7 separate regions of the Homo sapiens genome follow, and all the other regions are linked to region 1. The links come from fine-mapping of genetic effects on gene expression. A gene starts in region 1. Each other region holds a variant in brackets. All regions are shown on one strand. Distances are between the middles of the regions.

Evidence for each region. PIP is the estimated chance that this variant, and not a neighbour inherited with it, causes the effect.
Region 2: its variant is fine-mapped to the expression of SLC44A5 in whole blood (TOPMed, PIP above 0.99). The same link has a PIP of 0.9 or more in skeletal muscle.
Region 3: its variant is fine-mapped to the expression of SLC44A5 in whole blood (INTERVAL, PIP 0.95).
Region 4: its variant is fine-mapped to the expression of SLC44A5 in whole blood (TOPMed, PIP above 0.99).
Region 5: its variant is fine-mapped to the expression of SLC44A5 in whole blood (TOPMed, PIP above 0.99). The same link has a PIP of 0.9 or more in blood mononuclear cells, ileum, lung, lymphoblastoid cells and skeletal muscle.
Region 6: its variant is fine-mapped to the expression of SLC44A5 in whole blood (TOPMed, PIP above 0.99).
Region 7: its variant is fine-mapped to the expression of SLC44A5 in whole blood (TOPMed, PIP above 0.99).

The regions. Positions count from the first base shown.
Region 1 is chr1:75,608,875-75,612,874 of GRCh38, forward strand. It overlaps SLC44A5 (solute carrier family 44 member 5), which reads right to left and starts at 2,240. Exons shown (of 24, transcript NM_001130058.2): 1 at 2,166-2,240.
Region 2 is chr1:75,394,094-75,398,093 of GRCh38, forward strand. SLC44A5 (solute carrier family 44 member 5) reads right to left here. Exons shown (of 24, transcript NM_001130058.2): 3 at 2,490-2,528. Among named protein-coding and RNA genes, the nearest start is that of SLC44A5, 220 kb to the right of the region's middle. The variant G/T (reference allele first, on the strand shown) is at 2,369.
Region 3 is chr1:75,461,103-75,465,102 of GRCh38, forward strand. All of the region lies in intron 2 of SLC44A5 (solute carrier family 44 member 5), which reads right to left. Among named protein-coding and RNA genes, the nearest start is that of SLC44A5, 150 kb to the right of the region's middle. The variant T/A (reference allele first, on the strand shown) is at 1,763.
Region 4 is chr1:75,406,017-75,410,016 of GRCh38, forward strand. All of the region lies in intron 2 of SLC44A5 (solute carrier family 44 member 5), which reads right to left. Among named protein-coding and RNA genes, the nearest start is that of SLC44A5, 200 kb to the right of the region's middle. The variant G/A (reference allele first, on the strand shown) is at 1,771.
Region 5 is chr1:75,382,100-75,386,099 of GRCh38, forward strand. All of the region lies in intron 3 of SLC44A5 (solute carrier family 44 member 5), which reads right to left. Among named protein-coding and RNA genes, the nearest start is that of SLC44A5, 230 kb to the right of the region's middle. The variant G/A (reference allele first, on the strand shown) is at 1,982.
Region 6 is chr1:75,015,346-75,019,345 of GRCh38, forward strand. No RefSeq gene overlaps it. Among named protein-coding and RNA genes, the nearest start is that of LHX8-AS1, 120 kb to the right of the region's middle. The variant T/A (reference allele first, on the strand shown) is at 1,610.
Region 7 is chr1:75,468,929-75,472,928 of GRCh38, forward strand. All of the region lies in intron 2 of SLC44A5 (solute carrier family 44 member 5), which reads right to left. Among named protein-coding and RNA genes, the nearest start is that of SLC44A5, 140 kb to the right of the region's middle. The variant G/A (reference allele first, on the strand shown) is at 1,595.

The sequences.
Region 1 (4,000 bases):
TCCCCCTTACTATGCTCATTTTTTTTTCTTTCTGTCATGGCACTTTTCAATTTTTAATATCAACAATGTATTCATGCTTATTATTCATTGTTTGTCTTCCCTATGTATAGTGTAAACCTCATGAAGAATTCATTTTGTTCCCTGATTTATCCCAAGCATGCTTAGAATAGTGCCCAGTACATAGTAAGCGATTGATTAACACTTATTGAATGAATAGAGAACTACATGAACGAATAAAATAGATTAATATCCTACTCTCAAGTAGAAGAGACGGCAACCTTCCTTTCTTAAATCCTCTTTCTCAGTCTCCTATTTATACCTCAAAGGACTAACTGGGCTGGGAGGAGGAAGGGATTCTTTGGTAAGGAGGAATAGATAAATACAGCTGGAAAGGTTTTTATTTGAATATTTTAGGGTTTCATTTCTTTGGGTTTTTTCTTTTTTAATTGGCAAGTAAAAATTTATATATTTATGGTGTGAAACCTGATGTTTTGATATATATACACATTGTGGAATGGCTAAATCAAGCTATTTAACATATTCATTACCTTACATTCTTATTTTTGATGGTGAGAATAAAAGATTGTAGATTTTAAGAAACTTTCTATCTTCTTAGTTTGGAGGACTGTGAAATCTTGTGCTGTTGGGAGATTTTAGGGCTTTTGTATTCTCTTTATCACTCTGATTTTTGGTTCGGTAGTGCTTCAATTTGGAAAGTATCTTCTAAACTAAATGAACTAGAGGAGCCAGGAATCAGTACTCAAAAAAGCAGAGGAGAAAGCAAGCTGCTACAAGAAACTCAAGGGAAACAAGAAAAGAGAACTTCAGGGTTTCAGCCCAATTCACTAAATAGGAAAGAGGGCTAAGATTCAAGATCAGTGTTGGAACTAGTAACAAATATTACATTTCATGATAGAGGTGCAAAAATAATGAACCACAGGTATATTCATGATCTAATGTTATGTAACCTATTACCCCCAAATTTTAGTGGTTTAAGACAAGAGTAAGCATTTATTATATCTTATGGTTTCTGTGATTCAGGAATCCAGAAGCAGCTTGATTGGATAGCTCTGGGTCGGGGCTATCATGAAATTCAGTCAGATGTTGGCTGAAGCTACAGTCATCTGAAGGCTTGACTTGGTTGCAGGGTCTGTTCCCAAGATAGATCACTCACATAACTAGCAAGTTGTTGCTATTAGCAGGAGGCCTCAGTTCTTCCCACACAGAGCTAAGATTCAAGACTTCTATGCAAGTCAAGAAATACACACACACACACACACACACACACACACACACACACATAGTGAAGTCTGAATATAAATTAGGAACTGAGCTCTTCTTCTCTCTCCATAGGTATATACATATACATACATATACCTATATACACATAGATATCCTGGAGAATTATTTAGAGAGAGCAATATTTCTACATCAGCTCCCTAGGCCAAGTAAGGTGACCCAATGGACTTCACTTTTCTAAAAAGTGCAGTTATACTTATGTATCTTCTCTTACTATTCATCAAAATACCGACAATATTTTGGGCTGAAATGTTAATAATATCTGTATGAACCTCTGCTTCAAAAAATAATCCAAGGGATCCTTGAGTATTTTTAAAACATGGCATCTGGTTTCCCCAAAATGAGCAACATAAGAAAGCAAAGAATACAAAAGAACAAGGCAGAAGCCATAGTGTATGTCTTTATGATGTAGTTTTCTGCTGTACAGTACTGATCACATGGTCAGCTGTGATTCATTTTGGAAGGGGAGTATGAACAGGTGTGAATACCAGTAGGTAAGGATTCCTAGAGATGTTATCAACATCTCAGCCCGAAATATTGTCGATATTTTGGTGAATATTAAGAGAAGATACATAAGTGTAACTGGACTTTTTAGAAAAGTGAAGTCCATTGGGTCACCTTACTTGGCCTAGGGAGCTGATGTAAAAATACTACTCTCTTTAAATAATCCCCCAGGATATCTATATATATACACACACACACACGGAGAGGAAGTGCTCAGTTCCTAATTTATATTCAGACTTCACTATATATATGTGTGTGTGTGTGTGTATTTCTTGAGTTGTATAGAATACGTACTTATGAATAACAAACTTGACCAATTTTCCTACAGACATAGACTTCTTGCATTTAGCAGTATCACTCACCTCTTACTCCATCATTTCTTCAATAACTCCATCAACACTGAACCTTCTAACTCTAACATGCTACGATTCACTACTGTGAAAAAAAAGCTGATGTCATAAACACATTGTGTTCCAGTATCACTAAGGGCCATACCCCATTCTTAGGTAATCCCTGAGGTCCTACTAGCCTTGCTAGCCTCAAAGGAGTCACTTGGAGTATAAAGAGGGGGAGGAGACTGAACAAAGTCCTGGAGCTATAGTATATTTTTTCATTGTTAATCCTTGGCAAAGAAGTAGGTAGTTTGGAGGTGGAAGTAGGCCATGATTACCTTTAAAATAATCTACTATTATTTGTGTCTTTCCTGAATATCATAGCACCTTCTTGTCACAAATGCTTAGGGGAAAGAAAATCATCCAATATACCCCATATCCCACTTACCAACATCTCTACAGTAAAATGAGACCCAAGAGCATGATTTCCTTAACTAGCTATCAAGCAACTACCTCCAACAAACAGCAGTTATCATTAATATGTTCATGCTATTTTCATTTGTGAGGTCTGTAATCCATCAGAACAACCTGACAGTGATTAAGTAAAATCAAAGAGACTTTGTAAACATCTGTGTGCTTTTATTGTTACAAATGCTTCATTATAAAAAGATCAGTCAAAAGCATAAAAGTACCCTGGTTTAAACTTTTTCTGTGTTTGAATGAGAATGTTTCTCTTGGAACATGCTCATATCAGGCTTCCACTTGGCAAAATCACGAATTGGCTGATGTTGTTTTAGAGGCTTTCTCATGTCCCCTTCCAAACATCACTCTTCTCCTTCTGTGGACCCCTTTCTGTTATCTAGGAGCCCCTCATGCTGCCTTCCACATTCTGCCTACTGCACAGTCATGTTCTGGACCCCTCAGAATCCCCCTCTACCATTACAATATGTTTTTCCTAAGACTTACTTGCATTGAAAGGCTTGCCAGGGAAGTGACTAATCTTATCATCTTGTACTAAATGTTAAATTAATCCTCATTCTCTCTAGAATTGTTTTCTAAGCAGGGATTCCTAGAGATGCTATCAATATCTCAGCCTGAAATTGCATAGGTATTCTGGTGAATAGCAAGAGAAAATAACGTGAGTATAACTGGACCTTTTAGAAAAGTGAAGTCTATTAGGTCACCTTAGTTGGCCTAGGGAGTTGATGTAGGAATGCTCCTCTCCCTGAAATAATCTTCCAGGAGAGGAATGTATCCCCAAATAGCAAGTGAATATCCAATGGCTTCTCATTGCACTTAAACTCTATATTCCTTTTTATGACCAAAAAGGCCTGGCTTCTCCCTAACTGTCTCTTCCTTACACATTACACCTCTTCCTTTTGTATGTGAATGTGCCAAGCTACCACCTCATTTCTACCTTAAGGCCTGAAGTGTTATGTTCCAGTTCTTGGCATGCAAATTACTCTTCATCACTTGTTTCCCGACACAAATGCCACCTTTCCAGACAATCTAAAGTAACCTCAAAATCATTTGCTCGCACATCACTTTGTTTTATTTCTCCTGGTATTAATCACTATGTGAAATTTTCTGGTTCATATTATTTGTCACCTGCTTCTTCCAGGCCTCCTCTTACTTCATTGTCTATCATGTTCATTACCGTATCCCTAGTGTTTTGCACAGAATCTGGTACATATTCAGTGCTCAATAAATATGTGCTAAATGAATAAATGAATAAATTAACCTAAACATAAGTTTTACACTTAAGTAATTGAGCAAGAAGTCTTTGTTGTACTAATATTGGAAAAGGCAGGGGTGGGGGTGGTGACGTGATTATAACCAATGTAACCAGCTTGCATTTATAAGAC
Region 2 (4,000 bases), 210 kb before region 1:
AGACTTTAAGTGTGAGCGACTGGCCAGAGAAGGAGAGATCAGAGAGTCAGGAGGAAACCCAGGAGAGTGTGGTATCTTGGAAGCAGAAGAGGAAAGTTTAAAAAAGTAGAGTGGCTGAGCATGCTAAATGCTGCTGAGAGAGAGTAAGGTGAGGAAAAGAATTCTGTAATGGAAGAGCAAGATACAAGTCTGTGGAAATGATAAAAAACTGTTTCATGAAGTAATGCAGATACAACTCCAGTTGGAGTGGGTTAATGAGAGAATAGGAGAAAAGTGGAGTCAATGCCTATAAACAATTCTTTTGAGTTTTAGCGTGATGAAAGGGTTAATTGATCATTTTTTTTAAATAAATTTCAGGCGGCTGTATTAAGGCATATTTACATGTAGGCAAGAGAGAGAGGGGATAATTGCAAGAGCAAAGTCTTTGAAGAGGCAATGCTGATAGAGGTACTATGAGCCTTGGAAAGGATGAGGTCAACCCTTCCCTGTAACAGAAGAGGAAGTGAAACGAGCCACTGGCTTTGGTGGGCCTCAGCTTCTTTGGAACACAAGGCTGTTGAAGAATGTGTCCTATGGGTTAACACCAATAACACTCCAGTTCTCCCAAGCTTACCCCCATTGTTAGCACAGTTAAGCTTTCTTTAATATCAGGCTCTTAAAAAGAAGTGTAAATGTGGAGTGAATGAACCAAAAAGAAAAGACAAAAATGCCATCATCCACCCAATTGAAATCCAAGGCCTGTTTATCCACTCACCCCTGAATACTGAGTGCACCCCAGATCTTAGGATCTGGGAGTGTTTCCCTCTGCTGAGATGCACTTTTAGTGGATGCAAAACCAACAGTTCCTCCTGGGCCATGACTCAGCAGAGTTATCCCAGTAATACCTTGTCTGGGAGAATGGAAATGGCATAGTACAATATCCTATATTGAACCTTTCCTCTTTCTTTTACTTCTGTCCATTCAAGCAGAAGCAGCACTCAGTGGTACTTCTCTCCTTGGGCTACTTTATATCAGAAGTGGAGTGTTTTTCCTCATTAGCTTATTTATCTCATAAACCTTGTGAGAAAGATGAGGGCTTTATTTTAGGCCTAATTACTTTATTCCAAGTGAGAAGACAAGGTATATGAATAAAAACATAACTCAGATCATACTGAGCAAAAAACATTATTTTGACCCATGATACATTTTGAGGCAGAATGATTCAGACTTCTGATGGCACAAAAAAGACTTGACCTCTACTTTGTTTTAAGGTAGGAAAAAACCATCTGCTGATACATTTTTTACCTTTTTATTTCAACCCCTGAGATTAAAAAATTACAAATGGAAATTTACAAAATAGCCTCTACAAAAGTTTCTATTACCTACCTTTCTACCTTATATGATCATATATGATTAAGTAACAAAATCTATATGAAGGAATTTTGAAACTGTAAAATGCTATCTAAGTGTGAGAACAAACAGCAGCATCTAAGTAGGTAAAATTAAAGTACATGAGAGTCAATAAATGGGTTTTGAGAAAAGAGGCAGGAAAGTACATGTATGATCATATTTTCTTATACATTTATTTAATCGACAAACAATAATTGTGTATATTTATGGGTTGCAATGTGATGTTTTGCTCTATGTATATATACATTGTAGAAAGATTAAGTTAAGCTAATTAACATATCCATCACCTTGCTATGGTGATCACCGTTAATAATAATGTATTGCATATTTTAAAATTGCTAATAGAATGGACTTTTAACATTCTCACCACATATATAATAATCTTTTATTTGAAGATTGGGGATCCAAGTAATGTTGGAAGTCACCGAGTAAAAGTACTTATTTATATACCTCAGGGGCAATGAGATTGCACAAAGGAAGAGAAATTCTTGAAGCCAGTGCTGCTGAAATTTTTGTTTGCACATGAATCACCTGAGAATCTTCTGAAGGTGCAGATTCTGATTCAATAAGTCTGGGATGGGACTTGAGATGCTGAATTTCCAACTCCCAGGTCCTACTCATGCTGCTGGTCTACAGACCACACTTTGAGTAGCAAGAATCAACTCTATGGGGCTGACTAAGGAGAGAGCCGGCTGTCGGAAAAAGAAGACTGAATAATACACACATAGTGTCATGAAAGCTGGAGAGTGAAGGTGTTTATTGGAGAGAGAGATTTGAACAAGACTCATGTGTCAAAGTCACAAACTGAGCTGAAAGGAAGGAAAGAAGACAAGATGTGTCAGGTGAGCTGGGGTGATAAAGCATCAGTAGCTGCATGATGTTTTTCCTGGGAAATTCATTTACAACTCCAAAAAGAGGGAACCCTTTCAGGAAGGAGAAACAGACAGTTGAAAGAAGAATCCAAAAAAAGCTTCAGTCA[G/T]CAATTATTCTTTACCAAACAAATATTTCGCTATTCCTAGATTTTAAAAGAATCACATATTTCTCAATGGATAGACTGTCATGAAAGATTCTTAGCACTTAATACTCAGACTATGACTTACCAAAGTCCTCTTCCTCAGAGGGAGTATCTGCTGGTTTTTCTAGGAAAAAGCACAAAAGGCAAAAAAAATATTTGTAGGGGCTGATGACTCTGAGGTTCTATACACATCTCTCCTTATCCTAAAAAATCTTAGTCTTTAGACTAACACACAAAATAACATAAGGCAGTTGGACTGGTTGAAGTAATTCTTTATACACAAAGCTGCCAATAATGAGCATTTATTCTTAAGAAGTTACCAAAAAAATAATTCATGAAGGTGCTGGAGGTAAGAGGTTTGGGGATGATGAAATAAAGCTGTTAATTCTTCCATTTGCATCTATGACTTGTATAATGTAGGTGATATGTAGAGACTTGAAAAATTCATTACTAAGAAATGAGGCATTTTGTTTACTTTCATTTTCTGTTCCTGCTTTAAACTTCAGAAGACACATTAGTCATGAAAAACTTAATATGCATTAAATACCTTTTATTACATGCAGAATAGCCAGTGTAGCCTAGGGAAAAGAGATATATTTTGAATTCAGCAGTCCCACCTTAATCACACTACGTGTGGCCTTTAGCTTTAACAGAAACTCCCATGTGATAACTATGAATGACTCTATTCAATTTGGAAGGTACAAATTATGGTAATTTTGGGGAATGGGGAGGTGGCACGTGCCATAATGAACAATAACAGCATCCTAATGCTTCAAGTGTCACATATGTTAAACAAAAACACTAATGCTTTCTATGAACACCCCATTCTCTGGTGCTTTATCAGACTTGCCAACTCATTAATTAGAGCTATTGAAAAGAATTCCGTCTATAGACCTCATGGGCAGAGATTACAATGCTTGGTTTCCCCATTGATTTTTCATCAATCGGACTAACAGTAGCAAATCATTGAGAGTCAGAGTTGGGGTAAAGATTCCAGGGAAAGCGAACATTTGTAAATTGTGTTCCTTTGGGAAAAATAATAATAACGATAATTAAAATAGTAACCAACTTTTGAACACTTACTATGCACCAGGTGCCATGTTTCATTTATGTTATCTCATTTAATATTCACAACAAGCCTTGCAGTAGTTACAATAATCGGTTCACTTCTAAAAATGAGAATCCAAGGTTCCCAGAGGCAACGTGAACTTTTGGGTCTAATCTTTGTTTAAAGTCACACTGCTAGTAAGTGGGGAACCTGGAATTCAAACTTAGGTCTGTGTGCTCCAGAGTCCATTTGTAATCAATATAACTACTAGCCTCCAGTAATGTCAAATGTATGAGAAAAATAAAGATTACTCATAACATTTTCAGGATATTCCCCACCACCACACACACACCTTTAAAACTAGCAATGCTGACCCACATTCATTAGGATGGTAAGCATTATTAGGGACATACAGGTTTCACACTTACCATTTAAAAAGCTAAATGAAGTGCCCAAAATATAAAATGGCCATCCCTTGCTGATTTTCTTAAAATAGTATGTACGTGCAAGGATTGGCACCTGAGAGGTAGAATAAAATGAATAAAATG
Region 3 (4,000 bases), 150 kb before region 1:
ATGTCATGCACCATTTACAAGAATGTTTACAAAGATTATATAGCAACACAAAAAATGCTTTTGGCATACAAAGTCTTCACATAAACCAAAAGAGATCTCTTCTCTGATGATCAAATTAATTCCACAGATAATCGAGCACATTACTACTATACATCAGGTATGAAAATAGTTTTAAAATTGTTCCCTAACCATTTTCATCTCTGACAATTTTCACATGCACCTTTCTCCCTGTAAGATAATATTATTTAGGTCACAACCTTCACACACGTGTTATCTTAATTGAATCCTTATAAAATCCAAAGAGGTAAATAATATTATTAGTTCACTGGAGTAACTATTAATATTATTATGAGTGGTGTGTCTCAGGACATTAGATATATTTAATTGTGTTTTGAGGATCCCATTTGTCCAAGTCAACCAAGTCACCAAATTTTGCTAGCCACGGTGACTAAATAGCTCTTTCCTAGCAAAAGAAAACATAAAATTCTCATTATTGAGTTACTGTCTAGGCCAGCACTGTCCAATAAAAATACAAAGCAAACCCTTGGATAGCATTTCTGAAACTGCTCTCGGCCAGAGGAGTGCCTACTACCCTAAAGAGTGAGTCCAAGGCCAGGCAGCATTCACAATAAGCTGACTAAAAAGCCCTTGGGCCTTAGGGGGAACATTGGTAGTAATCTGCCAGTACTCCTCATGGCCTGGAGTGGTGGTGGGTATGGGATAAGACTCCTCTGCCTTTGGAAAGGGGAGGGAAAAATGGAAAGTACAATAGAACATCAGATGGCCTTTTAAGGTTTTTGACTCTAGTTCCTGGCTCCCAAACAACACCTATGGACCCTCCTGGGTCCTGGAGAAAATCACAATCCTGCAGGGAAGGACGCAGGCCTGGCTGACTTTGCCACCTGCTGACTGTAGAGCCCTATGGCACTGAGCAAACATAGGCCATAGCCAGGGAGTAGTTAAGCAGGCCTTGGGCAAGACCCAGTGCTGTGCTGGCTTCAGGTCTGACCCAGGACATTCCTAGCGGTAGTAGCCAAAGGGTGCTTATGTCACTCCACCCCCATCTCCAGTTGACTCAGAACAAAGATATAAACTCTGTTTGTTTGGGAGAAAGTAAGGGAAGAGAACAAGAGTCTGCCTGGTAATCCAAAGAATTCTCCCAGTGCTTGTCCAAGAACATCAAGGTGGCACCTCTACACGTCTGCAAGAACCACAGTGTTACTGGACTTTGGGTACCCCCTAAAACAAATACAGCTTAGATCACAACACTTACGTCTTTTAGAATACCTGGAAAGCCCTCCCAAGAAAGACTGGTACAAGAAAGCCCACACTGAGAAGACTAGAATAAATACTTAACTCTTCAATGCCCAGACACAGATGAACATCTGCAAGAATGAAGACAATCCATGAAAACACAACATCACCAAATGAACTAAATAACGCATCAGGGACCAGTCCTGGAGAAACAGATATGCGACCTTTCAGACAAAGAATTCAAAAGCTGTTTTGAGGAAATGCAATGAAATTCAAGATAACGCAGAGAAGGAATTCAAAATGCTATCAGAAAAAATTTAACAAAGAGATTGAAATAATTAAAAAGAATCAAGCAGAAATTCTGGAGCTGAAAAGTGCAATTGACATACTGAAGGATGCATCACAGTCTTTTAATAACAGAAATGATCAAGCAGAAGAATGAATTAGTGAGCTTGAAGACAGGCTATTTGAAAATACATAGAAGAGACAAAAGAAAACAGAATTTTTT[T/A]AAAAAAATGAAGCACACCTGCGATATCTAGAAAATAGCTTCAAGAGGGCAAATCTAATAGTTATTGGCTTTAAAGAGAAGGTAGAGAAAGGAATAGGAGTAGAAAGTTTATTCAAAGGGAAAATGACAGAGAACTTCCCAAACCTGGAGAAAGATATCAATATTCAAGGACAAGAAGGTTATAGAACATCAAGCAGATTTAACCCAAAGAAGTCTGTCTCAAGGCATTTAACAATCAAATTCCCAAAGATCAAGGATTAATAAAAAAAGATCCTGGCTGGGCACGGTGGCTCACGCCTGTAATCCCAGTACTTTGGAAGGCCGAGGCAGGCGGATCACAAGGTCAGGAGATCGAGACCATCTTGGCTAACACGGTGAAACCCCGTCTCTACTAAAAATACAAAAATTAGCTGGGCGCGGTGGCAGGCGCCTGTAGTCCCAGCTACTCGGGAGGCTGAGGCAGGAGAATGGCGTGAACCTGGGAGGCGGAGCTTGCAGTGAGCCGAGATTGTGCCACTGCACTCCAGCCTGGGCTAAAGAGCGGGACTCTGTCTCAAAAAAAAAAAAAAAAAAAAAAAGATCCTAAAAGCAACAACAGAAAAGAAACAAATAACGTACAATGGAGCTCCAATATGTCGGGCAGCAGATTTTTCAGTGGAAATCTTACAGGCCAGGAAAGAGTGCATGATATATTTAAAGCAATAAAGGAAAAAATTTTTACCCTAGAATAGTATATATCTGGTGAAAATATCCTTCAAACATAAAGGAGAAATAAAGACTTCCCCAGACAAACAAAAGCTGAGGGATTTCATCAATACTAGACTCATCCTGCAAGAAATGTTAAAGGGAGTACTTCACTTAGAAAGAAAGGAATGTTAATTAGTAATAAGAAATCATCTGAAGTTACAAAACTCACTGGTAATAGTAAGTACACAGAAAAACACAGAATATTACAACACTGTAACTGTGGTGTGTAAACTACTGTTATCCTAAGTAGAAAGCCTAAACAATGAACCAAACAAAAACAATAACAACTTTTTGAGACATAGCACAATAAGATATAAATAGAAACAAGAGGCCGGGCGCAGTGGCTCATGCCTGTAATCCCAGCACTTTGAGAGGCCAAGGCAGGAGGTTTATGAGGTCAGGAAATCAAGATCATCCTGGCTAACATGGTGAAATCCCATCTCTACTAAAAGCACAAAAAATTAGCTGGGCATGGTGGCATGCACCTGTAGTCCTAGCTACTCGGGAGGCTGAGGCAGGAGAATCACTTGAACCTGGAAGGTGGAGGTTGCAGTGAACCGAGATTGCACCACTGCACTCCAGCCTGGGCGACAGAGTGAGACTCTGTCTCAAAAAAAAAAAAAAAAAAAAAAGCAAGAAAGAAGAAAAAGGTAAAAAGCAGGAGGACAAAGCTAAGGCATAGAGTCTTTATTTGTTTTCTTTTTGCTTGTTTGTTTATGAAACAGTGTTGGTATCAGCTTAAAATATGAGTTATAAGATAGTATTTGCAAGCCTCATGGTAACCTCAAACCAGAAAACATACAATGGATACACAAAAAATAAGCAAGAAATTAAATCACATCACCAGAGAAAATCGCCTTCATTAAAAGGAAGGAAAGGGAAGAAAAGACCACAAAACAAGCAGAAAACATAGAACAAAATGACAGAAGTCCTTATTTATTAATAATAACGTTGAATGTAAATGGACTAAACTCTTCAGTCAAAATATACTGACTGAATGGATGGGAAAAAAAAGAAGTAATAACCTGTTGCCTACAAAAAATACACACATAAACTGAAAATAAAGGGATGGGAAAAGATATCCCATGCTATTGGAAACCAAAAGACAGCAGGAGTCACTATGCTTGTATCAGACAAAATAGATTTCAAGACAAAAACTATATGAAGAGACAAAGGTCTCTGTATAATGATAAAGGAGTCAATTCAGCTAGAGAATATAACAATTTTAAATATATATGCACCCAACACTGGAGCACCCAGATACATAAAGCAAATATTATTACAGCTAAAGAAAGAGAGAGGCCCCAGTACAATATACAATAATAGCTGGAAACTTTAACACCTCACTTTCAGCCTTGGACAGATATTCTAGACAGAAAATCAACAAAGAAACATCATACTTCATCTGCACTATAGACCAAATGGATCTAATAGATATTTACAGAACATTTTATCCAAGAGCTACAGAATACACATTTTTTGTTCATCAGC
Region 4 (4,000 bases), 200 kb before region 1:
TGATAGAGGGGATATCACCACCGATTCCACAGAAATACAAACTATTGTTAGAGAATACTGTAAACACCTCTACACAAATAAACTAGAAAATCCAGAAGAAATGGATAAATTCCTGGACACATACAACCTCCCAAGACTAAACCAAGAAGAAGTTAAGTCCCTTAATAGACCAATAACAAGTTCGGAAGTTGAGGCAATAATTAATAGCCTACCAACCAAAAAAAGCCCAAGACCAGATAGATTCACAGCCAAATTCTACCAGAGGTACAAAGAAGAGCTGGTACCATTCCTTCTGAAATTCTTCCAAACTATGGAAATAGAGGGAATCCTCTGTAACTCATTTTATGAGACCAGCATCATCCTAATACCAAAACCTGGCAGTGACACAACAGAAAAAGAAAATTTCAGGCCAGTATCCTGATGAACATCGATGTGAAAATCCTCAATAAAATACTGGCAAACCAAATCCGGCAGCACATCAAAAAGCTTATCCACAACAATCAAGTCGGCTTTATCCCTGGGATGTAAGGCTGGTTCAACATATGCAAATCAATAAACATAAACCATCACATAAATGGAACCAATGACAAAAAGCACACGATTATCTTAATAGATGCAGAAAAGGCCTTCAACAAAATTCAACAGCCCTTCATGCTAAAAACTCTCAATAAACTAGGTATTGATGGAACGTATCTCAAAATAAGAGCTATTTACGACAAACCCACAGGCAATATCATACTGAATGGGCAAAAGCTGGAAGCATTCCCTTTGAAAACCAGCACAAGACAAGGATGCCCTCTCTTACCACTCCTATTCAACATAGTATTAGAAGTTCTGGCCAGGGCAATCAGGCAAGAGAAAGAAATAAAGGGTATTCAAATAGGAAGAGAAGAAGTCAAATTGTCTCTGCTTGTAGATGACATGATTGTATATTTAGAAAACCCTATCGCCTCAGCCCAAAATCTCCTTAAGCTGATAAGCAACTTCAGGAAAGTCTCAGGATACAAAATCAATGTGCAAAAATAACAAGCATGCCTATACACCAATAACAGACAAACAGAGAGCCCAATCGTGAGTGAACTCCAATTCACAATTGCTGCTAAGAGAATAAAATACCTAGGAATCCAACTTACAAAGGATGTGAAGGACCTCTTCAAAGAGAACTACAAACCACTGCTCAAGGAAACAAGAGAGGACACAAACAAATGGAAGAACATTCCATGCTCATGGATAGGAAGAATCAATATCATGAAAATGGCCATACTGCCCAAAGTAATTTATAGATTCAATGCCATCCCCATCAAGCTACCATTGACTTTCTTCACAGAATTAGAAAAAAACTAACTCAAATTTCATATGGAACCAAAAAAGAGCCCATATAGCCAAGACAATCCTAAACAAAAAGAACAAAGCTGGAGGCATCACGCTACCTGACTTCAAACTATACTACAAGGCTACAGTAACCAAAACAGCATGGTACTGGTACCAGAACAGATATATGGACCAATGGAACAGAACAGAGGTCTCAGAAATAATGCCACACATCTACAACCATCTGATCTTTGACAAACCTGACAAAAACAAGCAATGGGGAAAGGATTCCCTATTTAATAAATGATGTTGAGAAAACTGGCTAGCCATATGCAGAAAAGTGAAATTTGACCCCTTCTTTATACCTTATACGAAAATTAACTCAAGATGGATTAAAGTCTTAAATGTAATACCTAAGACCATAAAAATCCTAGAAGAAAACCTAGGCAATACCATTCA[G/A]GACATAGGCATGGGCAAAGGCTTCATGACTAAAACACCAAAAGCAATGCCAACAAAAGCCAAAATTGACAAATGAGATCTAATCAAACTAAAGAGTTTCTGCACAGCAAAAGAAACTATCATCAGCGTGAACACACAACCTACAGAATGGGAGAAAATTTTTGCAATCTATCCATCTGACAAAGGGCTAATATCCAGAATCTACAAGAAACTTACACAAATTTAGAAGAAAAACAACAAATAACCCCATCAAAAAGTGGGTGAAGGATATGAACAGACACTTCTCAGAAAAAGACATTTATGTGGCCTACAAACATATGAAAAAAAGCTCATTGTCGCTGGTCATTAGAGAAATGCAAATTAAAACCACAATGAGATACCATTTCACACTGGATAGAATGGTGATCATTAAAAAGTCAGGAAACACAGATGCTAGAGAGGATGTGGAGAAATAAGAATGTTTTTACACTGTTGGTGGGAGTGTAAATTAGTTCAACCATTGTGGAAGACAGTGTGGTGATTCCTCAAGAATCTAGAATCAGAAATACCAATTTGACCCAGCAATCCTATTACTGGGTATATACCCAAAGGATTACAACTCATTCTACTATAAAGACACATGCACACATATGTTTATTGCAGCACTATTCACAACAGCAAAGACTTGGAACCAACCCAAATGCCCATCAATGATAGACTAGATAAAGAAAATGTGGCACATATATACCATGGAATGCAGCCATAAAAAAGAATGAGTTCATGTCTTTTGCAGGGACATGGATGAAGCTGGAAACCATCATTCTCAGCAAACTAACACAGGAACAGAAAACCAAACACCACATGTTCTCACTCATAAGTGGGAGTTGAACAGTGAGAACACATGGACACAGGGAGGGGAACATCACACACTGGGGCCTGTCGGGGGCTGGGGGGCTAGGGGAGGGATAGCATTAGGAGAAATACCTAATGTAGATGATGGGTTGATGGGTGCAGCAAACCACCATGGCACATGTATACCTATGTAACAAACCTGCACGTTTTGCACATGTATCCCAGAACTTAAAGTATAATAATAATAATATTCACTACACAGGTACTGTCACTTAATAGGTACTTGTTGAATGTTAATGCCTTTCCTTACAGACCAAAGAAGTTCTGAAAGATGGTGCTATATGAAAATAAAATAGGGGGATGAAAATAAAAGGTGATTGATCCAACTATGCATCCATAAGAAAGAATGAAATCACATCCTTTGCAGCAACATGGATGCAGCTGGAGGCCATTATCCTAAGTGAATAAACGCACAAAATACCACATCTTCGCTTATAAATGGACGCTTAACAATGAGTCCACATGGACATAAAGATGGGAACAATAGACACTGGAGACTCTAAAAGATGGGGGCAAGGTTTGATAAATAACCTGTTGGGTCCTGTGCTCACTACAGGAAGTCCATGAGTCCTTCTCACATAGCCTATTGTTTAGTACCCTGAATATATAACTGGGTATGTGTTTTCTGGGTGAGTACACCTACAGAATGTATTGGGTAATGAGTTCAATAGAGGCCTAAAGCCCAGAATTAGTCAATATATCCATGTAACAAACCTGCACGTGTACTCCTTGAATCTAATTTTTTTTAAAAAAGAAAGGTGATTGATTCAGAAGAGACAGGGTCTTGTTGTTTCTAGTGCTACCCTGTTAGAACAGAGTGAGTGTTCAAAAAGAGAGAAAGGCAACAGAGAAAGGGCCAGAAAATGGCCCTACAATACTTCAGTCCAGATAGCAAAGAGAATAATATTTAGAGAGTTTTGGTTGAATAAATGAAAATAATACAAATATATTTAATTGTTTATTATTTAAAATAATTTAGAATAATTATTTTTAAAATTATTGATATTTCAGGAAATAGCCTGAACTATGAAGCAAACATTTGCACCTCAAAATATACCCAATGGTATCACTTCCCAAAACACAATGCTACTACAGATGGTCATTGATAATTATGTAGGGCAGGAGTCTCCCAATGCCTCTTTAAGAATCATGCCCAAGGCAGCTTCAGCCCAAGGTTGTTTCAGAACTTATTCTCTTGATTGTCTAGTAGCTTTTGCCACTTCAGTTAACATCCTACATGACATACATACATACATATATACTTGCAATACACACAAGCATACATTTTCCAGGATTCCTCAGCTCACATTTTTCACCTGTTCCTACCTCTCAATGCTCT
Region 5 (4,000 bases), 230 kb before region 1:
CGTCAGATTTTTGTATTACACCCCAAATTTATAATGAGTCTGAGCATCACTGGGACATGGTTAGACGCCATCTACAGGGAAGAGAAGATAATCTCACTTTAGACATTTCCAAATTAAAAGAACAAATTTTCGAAGCATCAAAAGCCCATTTAAATTTGGTGCCAGGAACTGAGGCAATTGCAGGAGTTGCTGATGGCCTCGCAAATCTTAACCCTGTCACTTGGGTTAAGACCATTGGAAGTACTACAATTATAAATCTCATATTAATCCTTGTGTGCCTGTTTTGTCTGTTGTTAGTCTGCAGGTGTACCCAACAGCTCCGAAGAGACAGCGACCATCGAGAACGGGCCATGATGACGATGGCGGTTTTGTCGAAAAGAAAAGGGGGAAATGTGGGGAAAAGCAAGAGAGATCAGATTGTTACTGTGTCTGTGTAGAAAGAAGTAGACATAGGAGACTCCATTTTGTTATGTACTAAGAAAAATTCTTCTGCCTTGAGATTCTGTTAATCTATAACCTTACCCCCAACCCCGTGCTCTCTGAAACGTGTGCTGTGTCAACTCAGAGTTAAATGGATTAAGGGCGGTGCAAGATGTGCTTTGTTAAACAGATGCTTGAAGGCAGCATGCTCCTTAAGAGTCATCACCACTCCCTAATCTCAAGTACCCAGGGACACAAAAACTGCGGAAGGCCGCAGGGACCTCTGCCTAGGAAAGCCAGGTATTGTCCAAGGTTTCTCCCCATGTGATAGTCTGAAATATGGCCTCGTGGGAAGGGAAAGACCTGACCATCCCCCAGCCCGACACCCGTAAAGGGTCTGTGCTGAGGAGGATTAGTAAAAGAGGAAGGAATGCCTCTTGCAGTTGAGACAAGAGGAAGGCATCTGTCTCCTGCCTGTCCCTGGGCAATGGAATGTCTCGGTATAAAACCCGATTGTATGCTCCATCTACTGAGATAGGGAAAAACTGCCTTAGGGCTGGAGGTGGGACCTGCGGGCAGCAATACTGCTTTGTAAAGCATTGAGATGTTTATGTGTATGCATATCTAAAAGCACAGCACTTAATCCTTTACATTGTCTATGATGCAAAGACCTTTGTTCACGTGTTTGTCTGCTGACCCTCTCCCCACAATTGTCTTGTGACCCTGACACATCCCCCTCTTCGAGAAACACCCACAAATGATGAATAAATACTAAGGGAACTCAGAGGCTGGCGGGATCCTCCATATGCTGAACGCTGGTTCCCCGGTTCCCCTTATTTCTTTCTCTATACTTTGTCTCTGTGTCTTTTTCTTTTCCAAATCTCTCGTCCCACCTTACGAGAAACACCCACAGGTGTGTAGGGGCAACCCACCCCTACAATGGAAGATGAAATGAATGAAATGAAGCGAGAAGGGAAGTTTAGAGAAAAAAGAATAAAAAGAAATGAGCAAAGCCTCCAAGAAATATGGGACTATGTGAAAAGACCAAATCTACGTCTGATTGGTGTACCTGAAAGTGACGGGGAGAATGGAACCAAGTTGGAAAATACTCTGCAGGATATTATCCAGGAGAACTTCCCCAATCTAGCAAGGCAGGCCAACATTCAGATTCAGGAAATACGGAGAACGCCACAGAGATACTCCTCGAGAACAGCAACTCCAAGACACATAATTGTCAGATTCACCAAAGTTGAAATGAAGGAAAAAATGTTAAGGGCAGCCAGAGAGAAAGGTCGGGTTACCCTCAAAGGGAAGCCCATCAGACTAACAGCAGATCTCTCAGCAGAAACCCTACAAGCCAGGAGAGAGTGGGGGCCAATATTCAACATTCTTAAAGAAAAGAATTGTCAACCCAGAATTTCATATCCAGCCAAACTAAGCTTCATAAGCGAAGGAGAAATAAAATACTTTACAGACAAGCAAATGCTGAGAGATTTTGTCACCACCAGGCCTGCCCTAAAAGAGCTCCTGAAGGAAGCACTAAACATGGAAAGGAACTACC[G/A]GTACCAGCCGCTGCAAAATCATGCCAAAATGTAAAGACCATCTAGACTAGGAAGAAACTGCATGAACTAACGAGCAAAATAACCAGCTAACATCATAATGACAGGATCTAATTCACACATAACAATATTAACTTTACATGTAAATGGACTAAATGCTCCAATGGAAAGACACAGACTGGCAAATTGGATAAAGAGTCAAGACCCATCAGTGTGCTGTATTCAGGAAACCCATCTCACGTGCAGAGACACACATAGGCTCAAAATAAAAGGATGGAGGAAGATCTACCAAGCAAATGGAAAACAAAAAAAGGCAGGGGTTGCAATCCTAGTCTCTGATAAAACAGACTTCAAACCAACAAAGATCAAAAGAGACAAAGAAGGCCATTACATAATGGTAAAGGGATCAATTCAACAAGAAGAGCTAACTATCCTAAATATATATGCACCCAATACAGGAGCACCCAGATTCATAAAGCAAGTCCTGAGTGACCTACAAAGAGACTTAGACTCCCACACATTAATAATGGGAGACTTTAACACCCCACTGTCAACATTAGACAGATCAATGAGACAGAAAGTCAACAAGGATACCCAGGAATTGAACTCAGCTCTGCACCAAGCGGACCTAATAGACATCTACAGAACTCTCCACCCCAAATCAACAGAATATACATTTTTTTCAGCACCACACCACACCTATTCCAAAATTGACCACATACTTGGAAGTAAAGCTCTCCTCAGCAAATGTAAAAGAACAGAGATTATAACAAACTATCTCTCATACCACAGTGCAATCAAACTAGAACTCAGGATTAAGAATCTCACTCAAAACCACTCAACTACATGGAAACTGAACAACCTGCTCCTGAATGACTACTGGGTACATAATGAAATGAAGGCAGAAATAAAGATGTTCTTTGAAACCAATGAGAACAAAGACACAACATACCAGAATCTCTGGGACACATTCAAAGCAGCGTGTAGAGGGAAATACATAGCACTAAATGCCCACAAGAGAAAGCAGGAAAGATCCAAAATTGACACCCTAACATCACAATTAAAAGAACTAGAAAAGCAAGAGCAAACACATTCAAAAGCTAGCAGAAGGCAAGAAATAACTAAAATCAGAGCAGAACTGAAGGAAACAGAGACACAAAAAACCCTTCAAAAAATTAATGAATCCAGGAGCTGGTTTTTTGAAAGGATCAACAAAATTGATAGACCGCTAGCAAGACTAATAAAGAAAAAAAGAGAGAAGAATCAAATAGACACAATAAAAAATGATAAAGGGGATATCGCCACCAATCCCACAGAAATACAAACTACCATCAGAGAATACTACAAATATCTCTACGCAAATAAACTAGAAAATCTAGAAGAAATGGATAAATTCCTCGACACATACACTCTCCCAAGACTAAACCAGGAAGAAGTTGAATCTCTGAATAGACCAATAACAGGCTCTGAAATTGTGGCAATAATCAATAGCTTACCGACCAAAAAGAATCCAGGACCAGATGGATTCACAGCCAAATTCTACCAGAGGTATAAGGATGAGCTGCTACCATTCCTTCTGAAATTATTCCAATCAATAGAAAAAGAGGGACTCCTCCCTAACTCATTTTATGAAGCCAGCATCATTCTGATACCAAAGCCGGGCAGAGACACCACCAAAAAAGAGAATTTTAGACCAATATCCTTGATGAACATTGATGCAAAAATCCTCAATAAAATACTGGCAAAACGAATCCAGCAGCACATCCAAAAGCTTATCCACCATGATCAAATCGGCTTCATCCCTGGGATGCAAGGCTGGTTCAATATACGCAAATCAATAAATGTAATCCAGCATATAAACAGAACCAAAGACAAAAACCACATGATTATCTCAATAGATGCAGAAAAAGCCTTTGACAAAATTCAACAACCCCTCATGCTAAAAACTCTCAATAAATTAGGCATTGATGGGACGTATTTCAAAATAATAAGAGCTATCTATGACAAACCCACAGCCAATA
Region 6 (4,000 bases), 590 kb before region 1:
GGCTTTCTTTGATAGGTAGGTAGGTTATTTATTACTGCCTCAATTTCAGAACTCATTATTGGTCTCTTCAGGGATTCAATTTCTTCCTGATTCAGTTTTGGGAGGGTGTACGTGTCCAGCAATTTATCCATCTCTTCTAGGTTTTCTAGTTTCTATGCATAGAGGTGTTTACATAGTATTCTCTGATTGTTTTTTATTATTATTATTTCTGTGATTTCTGTGTGGTCAGTAGTGATATCACCCTTATCATTTCTGATTGTGTTTATTTGATTCTTCTCTCTCTTTATTAGTTTAGCTAGTGGTCTATTTTATTAATTTTTTCTGGCCCCCCCCAAAAAAACTCCTGGATTCATTGATTTTTTTAAGGGATTTTGTGTCTCTGTCTCCTTCAGTTCATCTCTGATGTTGGCTATTTCTTGTCTTCTGCTAGTTTTGAAGTTTGTTTGCACTTAGTTCTCTAGTTCTTTTAGTTGTGATGTTATGCTGTTAACATGAGGTCTTTCTAGCTTTTTAAAATGGACATTTAGTGCTATAAATTTCCCTCTTTTAGTGCAATAAATTTCCCTCTCAACACTGTGTTAACTGTCCTAGAGACTCTGTTACATTGTATCTTTGTTCTCTTTAGTTTCAAAGAACTTCTTGGTTTCTGCCTTATTTTTATTATTTACTCAAGAATAATTCAAGAGCAGGTTGTTCAATTTCCTTGTATTAATAGTTGTGTGATTCTGAGTGAATTTCTTGTTCTTGAGTTCTAATTTGATTGTGCTGTGGTCTGAGAGGTCATGTGTTATGATTTCAGTTCTTTTGCATTGGCTGAGAAAGCTTCTGAAGCTGATAAGCAACTTTAGCAAAGTCTTAGGATACAAAATCAATGTGCAAAAATCACAAACATTCCTATACGCCAAAAACAGGCAAGCCAAGAGCCAAATCATGAATGAACTCCCATTTATAATTGCCACAAAAAGAATAAACTACCTAGGAATACAGCTAACAAAGGAAGTGAAGGATCTCTTCAAGGAGAGCTACCAACCACTGATCAAAGAAATCAGAGATAACACAAACAAATAGAAAAACATTCCATGGTCATGGATATGAAGAATCAATATCATAAAAATGGCCATACTACCCAAATCAATTTATAGAGTCAATGCTATTCTCATTAAGCTATCATTTACATTCTTCATAGAATTAGAAAAAAAGTATTTTTAAATTCATATGGAACCAAAAAAGACAATCCTAAGAAAAAAGAACAAAGCTGGAGGCATCAGGCTACCTGGCTTCAAACTATACTACAAGGATACAGTAAGCAAAACAGCATGGTACTGGCACAAAAACAGACACATAAAACAATGGAACCGAATAGAGAACAAGAAGTAAGACCACACATCTGCAACCATCTCATCTTTGACAAACCTGACAAAAACAAGCAATGAGGAATGGATTCCCTATTAAATAAATGATGTGGGGGGAAACTGGCTAGCCATATACAGAGAATTGAAACTGGACCCCTTCCCTATACCATATACAAAAATCAACTCAAGATGGATTAAAAACTTAAATGTAAAACCCAAAACTATAAAAACCCTGGAAGAAAATCTAGGCAATACCA[T/A]TGAGGACATAGGCACAGGAAAAGATTACATGACGAAGATGCTAAAAGCAATTGCAACAAAAGAAAAAATTGATAAATGGGATCTAATTAAACTAAAGAACTTCTGCACAGCAAACTATCATAAGAGTGAACAGACAACCTAGAGAATGGGAGAAAATATTTGCAATCTATCCATCTGACAAAAGTCTAACATCTAGCATCTACAAGGAACTTAAAAAAAATTTACAAGAAAAAAATGAACAACTCCATTAAAAAGTGGGCAAAGGACATGAAAAGACACCTGTCGAAAGAAGACATTTATGTGGCCAAAAAACATATGAAAAAAGCTCAACATCACTGATCATTAGAGAAATGCAAATCAAAACCACAATGAGATACCATCTCATACCAGTCAGAATGGCTATTATTAAAAATCAAAAAACAACAGATGCTGGAGAGGCTGCAGAGGAAAAGGAACACTTTTACACTGTTAGTGAGAGCGTAAAGTAGTTCAACCATTGTGGAAGACAGTGTAGTGAATACTCAAAGACCTAAACGCAGAAATACCATTTGACCCAGCAATTTCATTACTGCATGTATACCCAAAGGGACATAAATCACTCTATTATAAAGATACATGCACACATATGTTCACTGCAGTACTATTCACAATAGCAAAGATATGGGACCAAAGTAAATGTCCATCAGTGATAGACTGGATAAAGAAAATGTGATACATATACACCATGGAATATTATGCAGCCATAAAAAGGAATGAGATAATGTTCTTTGCTGGGACATAGAAAGAGTTGGAAGCCATTATCCTCATCAAACTAACACAGAAACAGAAAACTAAACATCACATGTTCTCACTTATAAGTGGGAGCTGAATGATGAAAACACATGGACACGTGAGGGGGAACAACACATACTGGGGCCTGTCCTCCAACAGGTCTGGGGTGGGAGGAGGGAGAGTATCAGGAAGACTAGCTAATGGATGCTGGGCTTAATACCTAGGTGATGAGATGATCTGTGCAGCAAACCACCACGGCACATGTTTACCCATGTAACAAATCTGCACATCCTGTACCTATAACCCTAAAACTAAAATAAAAGTTGGGAAAAGAAACTAAAATAAAAGTTGAGAAAAGAAAGAGCAAATATCAAAAGTAATCAAACATTAAAAATTCAAAATAAACATCCAAACCTACTTTGTTTTCCTAAGGAACATAGGTCTATCAGCCATGACTAAAGGAATAAAATATGTACATTGTTCAATATCATTCAATTTGGCCAAATTTTCCTCCATAATTACCAGCCAAGAACCAAATTCTGACTTTACATAAGTACTACTGACCTTCCCATAAATAACTATTTTAAGAGGTATGCAGGAGATCGGCGATAAGGGAAAACTTATTGGAGAAAGTGACATTTAACGTAAGTGCTTAATAGATGTTCCTCCTCCTCCCACACATATGTATAGACAGGACCTTGAAAGCCTAAAGACATTATTTCCAAAAGGTTATTCTAGGAACAGGTGGAGGGGTTGGGGGTATGTTGCTAAAAATTTGATTATGATCCTAAGTACTTTCCCCCTGTTTATTCTCTTCTAGAATCCTAGAATTTTAAAGCTGGAAAGGGCCACAGAGATCTCAATCTAAATTTTATGAGTGAGAAAAATCAAATCCAGAGAGTGTCAGTAATATGTTTATCTATGATCACACAGCTGGAAAAGCTGGGCCAAAACTGAAACCTGTCTTATTCTTTTTCCATAAACCCAGAACCAAGCACCAAAAAAGATCTCTAGAACTGCTTTAGGTCCAGAATGATAATTATCTTTAGAGATAACACTACTCCTCTCTATCAAGGGTAGGCTAGGCCTTTCTTTGACTATAATCTTGCTACAGTTCATTCACAGTGACATTATCATCCACTCCGAACTCTTTCCTTCCTCTGTCACTTGTCCCTAAGTTTCCTGGAAAATTAGGTTGAATAACAATGATAGGAAATAATAAATGATCAATCTTTATTAATACTGATGACTATGGTCTTCAAATTATTTTATATTTTTATATACCCTAATCGTGTTCCAGGCAGTTTAGCAAATAGCATAAGTAATGCCTTGCCCTGTAACTAACATACAGGCAATGGACAATGAAAGTATTTTCCATGTAATGTTCACATATCTTTAAACTACAGAAAAGTGCAGGATCCACTTGGATTTTGAAGCCTGACACATTATGAAAGGAGACATTTCTGTCAATCGTTTGATCTCCAAGATACTTATCTCATTAAAATCCAGGATTCTTTGATGATCATATTGGCTGAATGAAAACTTACCCATGGCACTGTTAGGGAATTATTATGAGCCAAGAATGTTATTTTTTATTTTGTCTTTAAATTTTCCTTTTT
Region 7 (4,000 bases), 140 kb before region 1:
ATGTACCTCATAAATATATACACCTGCTATGTACCCACAAAAATTAAAATGAAAAATTAAAAATGTATATATATTGCATGCCAGGTATGCAAGTTTTAATTTTTTAGTAGCTGCATTAAAAAGGTAAAAAGAAACAGATGAAATTAATTTTAATAATGCCTTTTACTCAACCCAATATATTCAGATTATCATTTCAACATGTAATCAATATAAATTCATTTATTTGAGATAAAAATGAGATATTTTGAATCCTTTTTGTTTTAACCAAGTCTTTGAAGGCTGGTCTGTATTTTACATTTACAGCTCATCTCAATTCAGACTAGCCACATTTCAGGTGCTCAATAGCTTCATGTGAAAAGAGGCTACCATCTTGGACAGCACAGTTGAAGACTAACTGATTGATAAAAGAATGTTGAAAATACTTATGAAAGGTAAATGATGACATAATAAGCGTGAGCTGTAACACCATGTGCCACTTAAGAAGACAATAATACCATTTATATAATTTAGATGCAGATTTTACTAGCATTCCCAGAAAAAAAAAAGTGTAGTGAATTTCTTCTTCTTTCCTTTTGGCAATATCATTCTGAAACCAGTGTGTGTAGAACTTAGGGGAAAAAATCACTAAAATGGTACGGCGTATAATGGAATAAAAATATTATGCCATTGGGATAAGGTGTCCTGGCTTTGAGACAAAAAGTAGAGTCAGACTGAGCACAGTGGCTTATGCCTGTAATTCCAGCCTTCTGGGAGGTGAGGCAGAAGGATTGCTTGAGACCAACGGGAGACATAGCAAGACGCTGTCTGAACGATAAGTAAATATTATCTGGGCATGGTGGTGTATGCCTGTAGTCCTAGCTACTCAGGAAGCTGAGGTGGGAGGATCATTTAAGCCCAGGAATTCGAGGTTACAGTGAGCTATAATCACACCACTGCACTCCAGCCTGGGCGACAGAGAGAGACCTTGTGAAGAAAAAAAAAAAAAAAAAAAAAAAAGTAGAGTCAACGTATCCTGACTCCCATAATAAAAAATTGCAGTTCAAAGGGAGGAGGGCTTCACGGATGACTTGCATATTTCCTAAGCTCCTAAAACATTCTTTAGAGGCAAGTATTTATCACCAACCTTTCTATTTGACAGCATATTAAAGATATTCCTACAGTTTTGGTGTTTCTGTAAGAGCAACTAAGGAATAACCCTGGAAAGATAAGAGCTTTTCATAACAACCAAGCTTTCAAACCAATCAATCCTCAAGACAATACTTTTTAAAAAAATTGAATGAAGTCTACACGTGAAGCTAAAAGCTTTGGTTTTCAAGAACCCTAGGGCTATACTTTAAAACAGCAGTAAAAAACATACTCAAAGATGGAAGAGAATGAGCACTCAAGAGAAACCAAGTGAATGTACAGTTGTGCCCTACCTTATAAATGTTCCTCACGTACTGCCACAGCTAAAATTAGGTCCCCACGTTTGAAATAATCCTTCCACAAAAGGTAGTTTATGTTGTATGAGCTCTTCTGTAACATAACGGTAGAATTTATAGTCTAGTGAGGACTACTACAGCCAAGTAAATAGGCATCTAAATTATTATATAGT[G/A]TGAAGACTACCAAGATAGGGAAGGTATAATGGAAGCACGCAGGAGGGGCCATAACCCAGACGTGAGGGGGAGGGAATGTTACTGGCGTCAGCTTCCTGAAGAAAGTGAAGTCTAAGCTAAACCTACACCATGAGTAGGTGTTAGCCTAGTGAAAGGAATTTGAAGCAGAGGAAATGGAATGTCCAAGGCCAGAGAGAAGCGTGACCTGGCATGGCATGTCGAAAAACTGAGATAAGTATGGTGGGAGGGTTGGGAGGGGCTGTCCAGGTGGAGAGATGTGGGTAAGGAGTTAAATAAGAGTGCCATCCTGCCATCCCTTTTAAGCTACGAGTATGGACTTGTTCTCTAGAACAATGGATAGCTACCAGAGGCATCTGAGTAACTGTTTCTGCTTTGACTCCCTACCTTTGGTGGGTTTCTAACTCCTCAATTACATGAAAATTCTAAAACTAAAGCATTTTGCAAGTATTTTGGGGGTAAATGAAAAAGCTAACAAAACACAACTATCTTCAAATATAATGCAGAGAGGGAAAAATAGAGGGCTCAGACAAATTTATTCCCTGGACTTGGAAAGTTAGTATTTTCTCAGTGATTCGTTGAAGATCTATTTTTTAACCTTTTTTTTACGGCCTGGCTGTGTTTCTTTGGAGTTTCATAAAATTAATGGCTTGTAACATCTCATTACTGGGCAAGTCTAAGGGCACCTTTCTCATCATTGCTTGAATTTCTGCCTTGAAGGGAATCCCCAGGATGGGAATTTTCCTGCGAGATGGATTGCTGTTTCATTTGAAGCCTTCCTTTCAACAAGGAAAAATTTCAAATCCCTCTCCATCTAATACATAAGCTTGTGTGCATGAAAACACACACACACACACACACACACACGTACACACACACACACCCATGAATTAAATCAGAACCAGGACAAAAGAAAAGGAGGGAGGAATGACATAAGCAGCTTCCAAAGCACTGCCTCTACCTGATCATAGCCTTTTATCTCAATCATGGCAGGGGGAAAGCCCATGCCCTCAATCAAGCAAAAGATCTCAAGAGAATGCGGGCAGAGCTCATGTCTCTTCTCCAAATATGATTTTTTTTCTATTTTTCCTTTGCTAATGTGTTCAAAGTATTTCCTCTCTCTGGCATTCCACTGCCCTCTATTTCTTAATTTTCTTCTACTGACTCCAGACTGGCAGCTTTTTCTTAGCTCAGTCTCTAAACCCTTTGTGTAGTTTCTTATGGGCATTTACTCTTATTCTACCTATGCCTAGAGAAGATCAAATAAGCTAGTTTGTATCCTCTGTCCAAAACTTCTGCACATTCCTAAGGACCATGAACAAGGAACCACTAAGGCTTTTTTTTCTCTGATCTATATTTATAATGCCACTTCCTGGTTATTTTTATTTTCCAGACCCATAATCTGTTTTGTGGCAAGCCATGGAAGGAACTCTCAGGTTTCTCATGTCTCTCTAAGCAGGATTTGGCAATACTAGATATTGTATTTTAGTAGGATTTTGGCTAGTGTTCAGGACAATAGGCAGAGCATATCCCCCTGGGTTTAAAAAAAAAAAAAAAACTACTGGGGCCTGGGTGTTTATTCTTCTTCTCTCAAGCCACTGGGAATAGAGCTTTCAAACAAGACCAAAGAAAAATATGAGAATAAAAAGGCTTCATGGAAAAAATAAGGTATCTTTAGGGTGAGTCATGCAGGGGAAAGTGTGCCGAGCACCTGTCAGTAGTACCTTTCTGATTCAGTCATGAGTATCAACTTAATTCTTTCTTTTGAGAAGAAAGCCAAGGTATTTTGAAATGCATAGCTGTTTAGATGTGGTACCCATTCTGCAAAGTTAATAACATCTTTGAGGGTTCATTAATCTCAACAAGCCTGAAAAAAAATAAATTTTCATGTTCTTGCTCTCCTACTATCATTCTTACAGTTCTTTTACATAAATAATTGGTTATGGTTCAAATTAAAATAACTTTGACAATTATTAAGCAAGCTAGGAGTGTTTTGAGCTTGCGCTGTGAAGTGAGATATCAGCGCCCCAGGGTGCCTCAAGACCATGTGTTATCTTATGATAACATTCAACTCACTTTTTTCTAGGCTTATAAAATACAAGTTTTTCATTTAGCAGCTGAAATGACTGTGCTCTCTTTAGATAATATTCCCTCACTGAAAGGTTAGTCTCAATAGAATTTTTATGATTAAAGCACAAATGTGGTATTTATGAGGACTAGGATTTGTGTTTCTGGCAACCCGAGTGTCCTCAAAAGCATTGCAGCCCTGTCCTCATTTCACAAGTCCTATAATGTTTTGCAGACCACCGTGTCCTCTATACTTAAATCCTTCTCATAGACTAACAAGTGGCAAGCCTTCACTCTTACACATATTATAATCTTTGTGG